3 linked regions of the Homo sapiens genome follow. The protein of the gene in region 1 purifies or fractionates together with the protein of each later gene. This does not show direct contact. Each region holds a gene or a part of one and is shown on either strand. Other genes may lie near its edges.

Region 1 (3,756 bases):
TATTGTAACGCAGTATAGTGTACACAAAACCATACTTTAATATAGAGATTTTTTTAAAGGGTAATTTTGACTACACACAATTTTCATCTTTGCTGATTTTAATATAAGCCTTTTGTAAGATGCAACCCAAGGGTAATTTCAAATAGCAGACTGCCCTGTTGACCAGAATTTGTTAGATTGCTATTACAATGCTGATTATATTTTATAGCAATTACTGACATAAGGTTATACTTTGGGCAATGGCTCATGCCTGTAATCCCAGCACTGAGGCCAAGGTGGGAGGATCACTTGAGGTCAGGAGATCAGGACATAGTGAGACCTCCATCTCTACAAAAAATTTAAAAATCGAAACATATCGCTTGAGCCCCAGGAGTTCAAGGCTGTAGTAATCTATGATCATGCCACTGCACTCCAGCCTGGACAACAGGACAAGACCTATCTCTTAAAAAAATAAAAGTTATATTTCATCCTACACGCTATAATTTCTGCTGTATAATTTTGGCAGCCCCCGTTCTGATTTTACATGAGGTGTTAACCATTATACAGAAAGTCTTATTGCCGTATAAACATACCAGAATTTGTACAATTAAATGAGCTGTATCCTCTCTTCCACAATCTATAGGAAAAAAGTAATCCTCTTGGAAAGCTGGAAACATAGTCCGGTAAGATTCCCATTGCTCAAAAAATTTTTGGCATTGAATTTTTGTAATTACCTTCAGAATTCGCAGCACATTTTTTGAAGATTTTTAATGGTAGTTAATTCTCATCTTCTTAAGTTGGATTTCATTTCTGCAAGCTGCTAACAGGTCCTTATAACCGAGACAAGTGAATGAAGTGGGTGTTAAAGTCACTGTTTGGGATAAAAAATGAAGTGTGATTATTTTCATATTTTTAGATTTTTTATAGTGTGTGGTTTATAGAAAGACTCCAGGAATATTCTGTGCTGTGGTGGAAATATTGGAATAATCAGCCTCATAAGGTGATTTCTTTGGTGGGGATAGCTGTCAGTTCAATATATACCTCTAACATGTAGTTTGAGGTCGGTCTCATTACATTGTCATATTTCTATTCCCTAACAACCACAGAACTACATATGTTATTTTTTCTAGTTATCTTACGTGTCACTAATTGTTCTTTTAATATATACTTGTGATAATTTTAATGGAATTCATTCTTTTCTAAATGATAAACTGACAGCTTTTGTTTTCCTTCCCAATACTATGCTCTGCTTTGCCGTGGAACTTACTTGTTTTATTCACTTAACTACATTATTGGATTGTTAGTTAAGTTTTCTATTGGTTATATTGTGTATTTAACTTTGAGGGGAAAGCCACTCCCATTTTACTAAGGTATAAAGAGGCTACAATCTTAGTGGATATATTATCTCTCAATTTTTCACTGCTGTCTTCTTTATGTCATTTGTTACTTTATAACTTTCTTCGTGTAAATTGATCTTTTATACTTTATATCATTTCTCTATTCAGAATCCTTTGCCTACAGGGTGAGTCATCCTGGTAATCCCATTCAGTTTTCTATTCTTTTCTCCTTTTTTCCAGCATAAAACTCTTTTTTATACATTTTAAGCCATGCTTATTTACTGAACATACCATCTTCTTTCTTAAAGCCAGAGTTTGCCCTTACCATATTACTTGCCTGACATCCCTTTTTCTTTCGTTCTTTCTGTTCAAATACAATGAATCCTTCAGAATGCTATTAGATCACATCTGTTCAAGATAAAGTGAAGCACTTGCCTTACTGATCTCCCTGCATCTTTCCACTTCTCTTGCAGTTATTTATGTTATTCATTTGATACTAAATATTACCTTGAAATTTTCTTAATTATTATATGTTTTAGATATTTTAGTTCTACATATAGATAATAATCTTCTGAAGGACAGCACCATGATTTTTCTATGTATCCCTTGCAGCACAACATACAACGTAATTCAGAGTAGATGTTCATATAATTATTTCATGGGCATTCAGTAAATTATTTGTTAAATTAATGTTCTACCATCTTCACTCAGATATTTCATGTGATTTTGTGTTTGTGGACCATTAAATAAAGCCAAATAAATATAATTTATACCATAAATGCATTCATTGCTCTAATCTGGTTATCACTGTTATATTCCTAACAACTTTATTTTATAGAAGCTTAAGTGAAAATGATACATGTTAGAAGACATGAAACAAGGAGAAATTCTAAGAGTCACGTGCCTGAGCAGAAATCTCGAGTTGATTGGAGGCGAACTAAAAGAAGTAGTATCTCACAATTACTTGATAGTGATGAAGAGCTTGATAGTGAAGAATTTGATAGTGATGAAGAGCTTGATAGTGATGAAAGTTTTGAAAATGATGAAGAGCTTGATAGTAACAAGGGACCTGATTGTAATAAAACACCAGGAAGTGAAAGAGAGCTCAACTTAAGTAAAATTCAAAGTGAAGGAAATGACAGTAAGTGTCTCATTAACTCTGGCAACGGTTCAACATATGAAGAAGAAACGAACAAAATCAAACATAGGAATATTGACTTACAAGATCAGGAAAAACATTTAAGTCAAGAGGATAATGATCTCAACAAACAAACTGGACAAATAATAGAGGATGATCAGGAAAAACATTTAAGTCAAGAGGATAATGATCTCAACAAACAAACTGGACAAATAATAGAGGATGATTTAGAAGAAGAAGACATCAAGCGAGGAAAAAGAAAAAGGCTATCCTCTGTGATGTGTGACAGTGATGAGAGTGATGACAGCGATATCCTAGTTAGAAAAGTAGGTGTTAAACGTCCCCGTAGAGTGGTTGAAGATGAAGGTTCTTCAGTGGAAATGGAGCAAAAGACTCCTGAAAAAACATTAGCTGCACAAAAGCGAGAAAAACTTCAGAAGCTCAAAGAACTCTCAAAACAAAGATCTCGTCAGAGACGCAGTAGTGGTAGAGATTTTGAGGTGTGTTATATTTTGTTGGATTTGTTATTGTTTTTCAGTTTTTTTCTTAAAGTATTTAATTTTTATAAAAAAGTGCTGAGTCCGTTCCATTTCTCAATAATTCTAGAATTTATTTTTTAATCAAGTATTCTTGAACATGTTTGATTACACTATTGTACGTAATATACTGTTTTATCATGAGCCTCAGTCCATCCTTTTTTAAAATTGAAAGACTATTTGTTATTTTATATGATCTTTCTTGTTTTTAACTTCTTATAATTCTAATGTCCATTTTAAACATTTTACATCACTTAACCAAGGTATATTCTTCTTAATAATTTCAAAAGTTCAGCATTTAATATGACAAAATTATTTATTTTTAACTTTAAAATATGAAGTTAATTACTATGGATCATTTTTTTGCTGTCAGATTTAATGTTTTAATTTTATATCGATGCTTACCGTTTTAATAGCACCATTTACTGAAGCATTTATTTTAATTTAATTAGGACTCTGAAAAGGAATCTTGCCCAAGCAGTGATGAAGTTGATGAGGAGGAAGAAGAGGATAATTATGAATCTGATGAAGATGGAGATGATTATATTATCGATGACTTTGTAGTGCAAGATGAGGAGGGTGATGAAGAGAATAAAAACCAACAAGGAGAAAAATTGACTACATCACAACTGAAATTAGTAAAACAGAATTCTCTTTGTAAGTTCAATATTAAGAAAATGTTTCATGAATTGTTCTCATGATATTTTATCAAGTATCAAATTAGCCTTTTAATATCATGTTCTAAATCATTGACTAGAAACTGTGG
Region 2 (3,756 bases), on another chromosome or scaffold:
GAACTCTCCCTCAGTTGAGGGACTGAGACATGTAAACAGTGTCTTAAAACACAAGGAGGAGGAACATGTGCTTTAGAGTCTTAGTGTTTGAGGACTTCAGGATAGAAACTGACTTAAGTGCATGAGGGAGTCGGGGAAAGACTCAGAAGGGGTGGCAATGGAGGTGGAGCCTTGAGCTGGACCTTGAAGAAGGTCATCAGGTGGGAAGGAAGGAGAATCCTTGGCAGAGACAGTGGAGAGAGTTGGAGAATGAAAGTGCATGGGGGGAACAGTAGGAATAAGGATGACTGCAGAGTGGTGTGTTGCAGGGTGCCAGTGAAGCTGAAGCCCTACTTCAAGAGAAACCTGTGTGCATGTGCACAGGGAGATGTACCCACAAATGTTCGTAGAAGACTGTAATAGCAAAAAACAACTGGAGATAACCCAGATCTCCATAAATGGGAGAATGGACAATTCAGCTTTGGTATTGCAGCAATGAAAATGAAGGAGCTGCAGGTCTGTGCATCAACACAGATGAATCTCAGAAATATAACATTAAGGGGAAAAAGAAAAACCAAGTCATAAAAGAATACACAGACTTATTCTTCTGTATGAAGTTCAAAAACAAAGTAAACAGCAAATGATCTGTGGGTACTGTTGTATATAGTTATACTGTTTAAAAAGGTGGGGAAGAAGCACAGAATTGGGGATAATAGTTTCCTCCAGCAGTGGATTGAATTGAGGAAGGTCCCCCAGGACTTCAAAGGTCCTAGTTATGTTCTTTTTCTTAAACCAGGCAATGAATTCAGGGTGTAAACCTATAATCTTACCCTGGTCATAAATATTTAGTATTTTATAAAGATAGTTTTAAAAATTTTTGAAAAGCAGATGATATGGAGCTGAGGCTGGAATAATTAATTGGGGCCAAGCAGTGAAGGGCCTGAACACCAAGTTGAGCAGCTTGGATTTCACCATGTTCCCTCTGCTTCCTCTCCTTGAAGGCTGGAGCAGAGCTGCATGTGTTAGATGAGGGAGGATACTCACAGGCTCAGCCCAAACCAGAAATGAGGAATAGCAGGCTCTTCTCCCCTTTTCTCATAGCCCAGAAGCTATACCTTTTCTTTACCAGATATTTGTTTATTAGTATTTATTTACTTATTGTCCTGCTTTAAGTTTATAGTGTGTTCCGTACTTTCTTACATACTCTCAGATTTGACCCTGAAAATAGCCATCTGTGGAATTAGTATTGCCCTATTTTATTGGTGAGGAAATTGAGGTCCAAAAGTTAGGTAGGTCACACAAGATCTTCCAGCTACCAAGAGGCAGTGCCAAGGCTAGAACCTGGGTTGCTTTTTATCATTTATATATTTTTATGTGCATGCAAAAATGTTTTTATATCAGGATTCCCCAACTTCTTGATGAAAAACTGTTGAATTGCCCAGAAGCTATTAATTGGGGGAAGTCATTAATCAGGAAGGATGATTTACAGCAGGGGAGGAAATCTCTGGGAGAGAGGATTGTAGTCAGTTTGGAAGGGACGATGCTGAAGAGACCTCACTGATCTCAGTTGGGTGCTGCTCCATGGTTTTTTTCCTCTTCTGAATTTGTATCTAGTGCCTTCTGCTGGGGATGTGGAGAAAGCCAGAGTTCTGAAGGAAGAAGGCAATGAGCTTGTAAAGAAGGGAAACCATAAGAAAGCTATTGAGAAGTACAGTGAAAGCCTCTTGTGTAGTAACCTGGAATCTGCCACGTACAGCAACAGGTATCTCCTATACAGCTGCTGGCCTGGGGCATTTCAGGACATTTGTTCCATAGTCTTCTCTTGGACTGCAATGGGCCCTTCATCCCTAGCATTTAGTCAAGTATGTTATGGCTGAAAACATGCATCCACGTTGTGAGCTAGCCATGACCAGTGGCATTCATTCTCTCAAAAGGGTAGAAACTGAGGGATGCCAAATGGTAGCCTGGGCTTTGTTGGCCCCTGTCCCCAGAATTTTCATAAGCATGCAATGTAACTAAAAGCAGTGTGCCTGCTCTGCAAACACAACCCTAACACAAGTCTCTTAGCCTGTCCACCCCACCACGCTACGCTGCTCCCTACCCTTCTCCAAGACCCTCCTGTTAGAAATTCTGGCACCATTTCTGTCTGAGAGTACTGGCCCAGAAGCCAAAATGTGAAGTAACCATTGCCTGGCATGAGAGCAGGAAGGATGGGTACAGTCTAGCCTGAAAGGTTAGACTTGTGGGCCTGTAGAAAGTCCTGCACCAGGAGCTGCCGTCAGTGACCACTGACTGAGAACCTGGGAGCCAGGGTGCGGTCCCTTCACTGTGTAGGAGTGATTGTTCTCCAACAATGCTCGTATAGGTGGTCTTTCTGTTTTAGTGTTTAGAAAATTGAGGCTCAGAGAAGGAAGGGTTTTGCTTTAAACTCAGCCAGCCAGTAAATGTTGGCACAAGAATTGGAATCTGACTTCAACAAGATCTTCCTGTTACTTTTACTCTCAGAAGCTTGAAACATTCAGCAAGAGACCATATCAAAACCAAATGCTTAGTATAAAACATTATAAAATGTTAGAAATCTGTTTATCCTTCCCTACCAGCATACACATATCACTCTCTAGTTCAAAAATCTTGGATCTAATATAGACACATTGTTCCTTATTCCAAACTCTTGAGATAAAATGTGTTTTCCAGCCACGGTGGCTCAATGCCTGTAATCCCAACACTTTGGGAGGCTGAGGCTCCGGGAGGATCACTTGAGGTCAGGAGTTTGAGACCAGCCTGGCCAACACGGCAAAACCCCATCTCTACTAAAAATACAAAAAATCAGCTGGGCGCTGTGGCACATGCCTGTGATCTCAGCTACTCAGGAGGCTGAGGCAGGAGAATCACTTGAACCCAGGAGGCAGAGGTTACAGTGAGCCAAGATTGTGCCACTGCACTCCAGCCTGGGTGACAGAGCGAGACTCTGTCACAAAAAAAAAAGAAGTGTTTTCCATTTTAGTGAGGTAATATGGTCTGAATTATGTAACACCCCAGCAGTGTCTGGGGCAGCTTGCAGAAGTTAATTATTAGTATTTCTGCCAGTGAAACTTGAAAATTCCATGTTCACATGGGGTGGAATAGAGAAACTAAATAGCTTCATGTCAGTTCAGATCAGGTTTTGCTGCCCAATGAGTTGGAAAGAGAACTTGTAGTTTTAAAGCTTATATTTTGGAATTTTGCACCTGTGGTTTTATGTGGTTTTATTGCTGATTGGACCAGAGGGGCCACAATTTGCCAGGCTAATTTGAAAAAGAAGCCTGCAGCCTATTTGTTCCATATTTGTGTGGCATCTTCTAACTCCTCTATCTCTGGACCCTCTTTCACATTGCTTACCTTATGCTGCTGGACACCTCCATTAACTCATTTTTCTGGATCATTACCATATTTGGAGCTGTGTTTTGTCTTGTTTAGATACTGTTCTTCATGCAGGTGTCTGTGCCACACTGTTTTAATTGCTTTTGCTTTATAATATCTTATAGGGCTGGTCTTTTCTTCATTCTTCTTAATCAGAGCATTCCTAGTATTTTCCCATGTTTGTTCTTCTAGCTAAAGCTTCGGATCATTTTGGCAAATTCCAAAAAATGTCTTGTTGGACAGCTTTTGGTTGTGATTGCATTGGATTTATAATTTAATCTAGAGGACTAATGACAAAACAACTTTCAGCCATTGTGGCTAACATTTTATCATGTCCTGGAACGTCTTGGACATAGTCTAATGCTCCACCTCATGTAC
Region 3 (3,756 bases), on another chromosome or scaffold:
GGCAAAAACATGAGATGAAGATCAGAGCTGGAGCTATGCAAAAATAAGAAGTAACTTCAACTTAGTTGGTGACTGAATTTAACTATAAGACATAAAAGGACAAGCAAATAGTTTTAGATCATTGGGGGGAAGATAAAATTAAATAAAGGGATTATATATGTTGTATACTTATATCAAAATATCTCATATACCCCGTAAATATGTATACCTACTCTGTATCCACAAAAATTAAAAATAACTTTAAAAAATTAAATAAAGAACCATGCCTACAGCTCTATAAAAATAATGAACCATTAGAATAAGAGTCCAAGATTTTATAAATAAATAGAACTTAAATATCTGTCCCTTTTTTTAGGACAAAAAGGACAGCGTCCTCTAAATTATTCAACTATTTAGAAAAGAAAAGATTAAAAATAATGTCAAATTGTCATTGATATTCTGATTTTTACCTCTATTAGAGTTCTACCTGTTAGACAACCAAAGAAATGTATTTGACAGCACTTTGCAAAATACATAAAAATGTACAATTTGTCACTGAAGCATTATCATTTACATCGTTATAAAGATGCCAACTATGTTTAAAAGTATTTACCATGCTTTGAAAGCTCTTTCTCCAAATTTTTGGAGACTGGCACACTTGAGTCTCTGTTTGGCAGACGAAGCCTTCCCTTCATCCCGAAGTTCATCGAGCTACAAAAAGGAATAATTTGATGAAAATTAGAAGAAAAATTCTACATGAAACACCCCTCCATAAGCTCAGATGAGACTGTGCCAAATTAAATTTTGAAGGCATAATTTATGCCTAAATTCCCAAGTACTCCCTTTAGCGAATAATGATTTTGCTCTCTAAGAAAAGGAAAGATCATTCGATCATTCTGGTCACAGCGGAATTCCCTATGTAGTTAGAAACCAACTGGAAACATTGCCAGGAAAAAGAGCCTTAAAAGTGGGAGAAAAGTCAGAGAAAGAGTACGCTAATATCCCAGGGGCTGCAATTTTGCTAATTTTTAAATTTTGTGTATAATTCATTTCAGTCTCTCCTCCACCAACATCAGTAAACTCCTCAGAAAAGAAAATAAAGCATTCCATAATATATATTTATGGAATGAATGCATGAACTCAGGCATCTAGATGCAGTAAAATTCTCTACTTTGAATTCCCTCCCTACTAAAAATTATCATGAAAAGATAAACAAGAACTGTGGCCCCTTGCTGTGCAATTTGACAAACAAGTTTCAGTATTTCACTATAGTGATCACCACCATAAAAAGTGGTGAAATCTTTAAACACATGCACAGTGATTACCTCTGACAGATCATCATTGGCAAATCTTAAAAGAAGAAACGAGAGTGTAGGCCTTCAAAGATGAAAGATTTTCAAGACAGATAAAAGGAAGGCTTTTTTGACCATGTCGGAAAGTTTGTATCAGACACTCAGGTTCCCTAAATCTAGCCACAAAATGGACAAAATCAGGTTGGATAATGAACTCTTTTTTTCTATTCTTTTGCATAATACCTTTGGCAACAGGCAGGCAGCTTTATCAGCAGCTTGGCAACATTCTGTAAAAGCAGCTTTATACCTTTTAGCAAAGAAAAGGAGTTCCGGGGCATAAAAGTAAGGATGTCTTCTGGCAATTTCATATAAGTATCTAAATTTTGAAAAAGAAAAACAGTCACTTTTCTATAGCAGACAATATTACAGAAATAATTGTAATCGACATTCTCCCCAGAACCTCCAAATTCCAAAGATATCTAATTAACCAATTAAGCTCAATTTGCACATGATGGTCTTGTCTCTGTCATTCTTTAAGTATGTGGAAAAAAGGGTTAAGTGTGTGTGTGTGTGTGTGTGTGTGCATAAATGGTTAAATTTTGGCAATATAATGTTGCTGACTAAAACGAAATCAATTATAACAACCATATATACATATCTTCGTAATACATTAAATAATTTGTCTATCTTAAATTTTTCAGAAAGATTGTATCCTGTTTCAATAAACTTCAAAATATCTTTGATCATATTTTTTGCTGTGTAGAATTTTGTGGTATCAAATACTACTTCTTTAAAAAATCATCATAACAAAACTTCCAAGTCTTAATGTTGAAAATATTTTTGTTATGGTAATTTTTATAGAGTGTTGGCCTATGGAGTTACTCCATGCTTTTTAATTTTGAACTATAAACATCTGATTACTTACTTTTTCAAAAATGTCTCTTCATTGTCATGAAAAGCAGTGCACATCACATCAACCTCTGGTCTCACCAATCGGGGGAGGTTTGGGTTGTCATCTTTGTGTTGCAAGAAGCATTCATTTCTCTCAGGTTCTTGTTTTGCACAGCAGTCAGCCATTTCACCATAGGTTTCACGAAGAGTTGCAACTGTGCATAATTTGTCTCCAAAAAGGGTATGCTAAATGGAAGAAAGCAGGTTTCAGTTGCTGGACAGTACCTTTTTTCTTTATAGCCAAAGAACAGTACAAAGGATTTAATATACTGGTTAAGCTTGGTCAGGAAATCATTTAAAAATCCGCTTCCCCTCCCAATCGAGGTTTACAGTTTCTGATGATTTAACCATCTCTATATAATTTTCATAAGAATTAACTGTCACACTATAACTCATGGTGAATAAAACAGGACAAAAAGACAGTCAATAGCTTTAAGGAAAGTTATATGACTCCTATTTTGAAACTTAAAACTAAAGGGTAAGAGCAATCATTATAACAGAAATCAAGAGAAAATAAGCTTCTAAGCAGCAGGTGAATTCACCTAGGGGAGAAAAACATTCAGAGAGTTTCTCATTTCATTTGCCCCCTTTTTAGAGGGCCATGTTTTAGTATATGCCATTGAAAACTGAGGAGTAACACAATCCATCATATATTAAGTGACTATTAAGATATAGACATTTTTCTTCCAGAAATGTTACCTAAAATCACTTTCCAATAAATGAGTCCTTTCCTTATCTCTAATTTTTATTATGAAAGTAACTGTAACCCCAGGGAAAATATACTACTCTAGACAGAATTTATTAATTTTTATGTATTTTTAAGATTTCATATGTAGAGCCATAGTATTGTGTAAAGTTAAAGTCCTGACTCTGCTGTGAGGGAGAGGTACATAATAAAAAGGGGAAAGGCTCCAGTGATAAAAACTGGCCTTGCCCACAAGAGGTATATATAGATTGAGTGGTGAGAGAAAGATAAACCTGTCCTTGTTTTGAAGATTGATCTGGAAATACTAAAAGTTTAAAGTTCTTCAACATGACTAAGTACTCTGCTTTTTTATTGTATGTAGAAATACAAAGATATCTAAAATGAGGAATATATAGCTGTACTATTATTCCACCCAGGTAACAAAATTAGCATAGAAATCAGTGGGTGTTTTCTGATGATAAAAACCATGATATCATCTCTAAGAGATAGTAGCTCTCCTGTGTTCATTGCAACACTATTCATGATAGTCAAGATGTAGAAAACCAACCTAAATGTCTATCAATCAACAAATTAATGGATAAAGAAAATGTGGTACACACATGCACTGGAATATTATTCAGCCTTGAAAAGAAGGAAATTCTGCAATAGGCAACAACATGGTTGGACTTTGAATGCACTATGCTAAGGGAAATAAGTCAGTCATAAAAAGATAAACAGTACATAATACCACTTATATAAGGTAGCTAAAGTAGTCAAACTCATAGAATCAAAGAGTATAATGCTGGTTGCCAGTGGCTGGGGGAGGACGAAACGAGGGGTTACTAATCA

Evidence for each region.
Region 2: the proteins of CCDC82 (region 1) and TOMM34 purify together in Homo sapiens (affinity purification with mass spectrometry; 2 studies listed by BioGRID and IntAct, with this or other methods). This does not show direct contact.
Region 3: the proteins of CCDC82 (region 1) and ALB purify together in Homo sapiens (affinity purification with mass spectrometry; 2 studies listed by BioGRID and IntAct, with this or other methods). This does not show direct contact.

Annotation. Positions count from the first base shown.
Region 1 is NC_000011.10:96,383,160-96,386,915, reverse strand, and holds part of CCDC82 (coiled-coil domain-containing protein 82), read left to right. Parts: exon of another isoform or gene 1-622; 5' UTR 623-662; exon of another isoform or gene 663-979; intron 980-2,154; 5' UTR 2,155-2,168; coding exon 2,169-2,954; intron 2,955-3,442; coding exon 3,443-3,647; coding exon of another isoform or gene 3,648-3,691; exon of another isoform or gene 3,692-3,756.
Region 2 is NC_000020.11:44,946,715-44,950,470, reverse strand, and holds part of TOMM34 (mitochondrial import receptor subunit TOM34), read left to right. Parts: intron 1-1,593; coding exon 1,594-1,741; intron 1,742-3,756. UniProt on the Homo sapiens protein: Plays a role in the import of cytosolically synthesized preproteins into mitochondria. Binds the mature portion of precursor proteins. Interacts with cellular components, and possesses weak ATPase activity.
Region 3 is NC_000004.12:73,407,246-73,411,001, reverse strand, and holds part of ALB (albumin preproprotein), read right to left. Parts: intron 2,409-3,756; coding exon 2,197-2,408; intron 1,648-2,196; coding exon 1,515-1,647; intron 691-1,514; coding exon 593-690; intron 1-592. UniProt on the Homo sapiens protein: Binds water, Ca(2+), Na(+), K(+), fatty acids, hormones, bilirubin and drugs. Its main function is the regulation of the colloidal osmotic pressure of blood. Major zinc transporter in plasma, typically binds about 80% of all plasma zinc.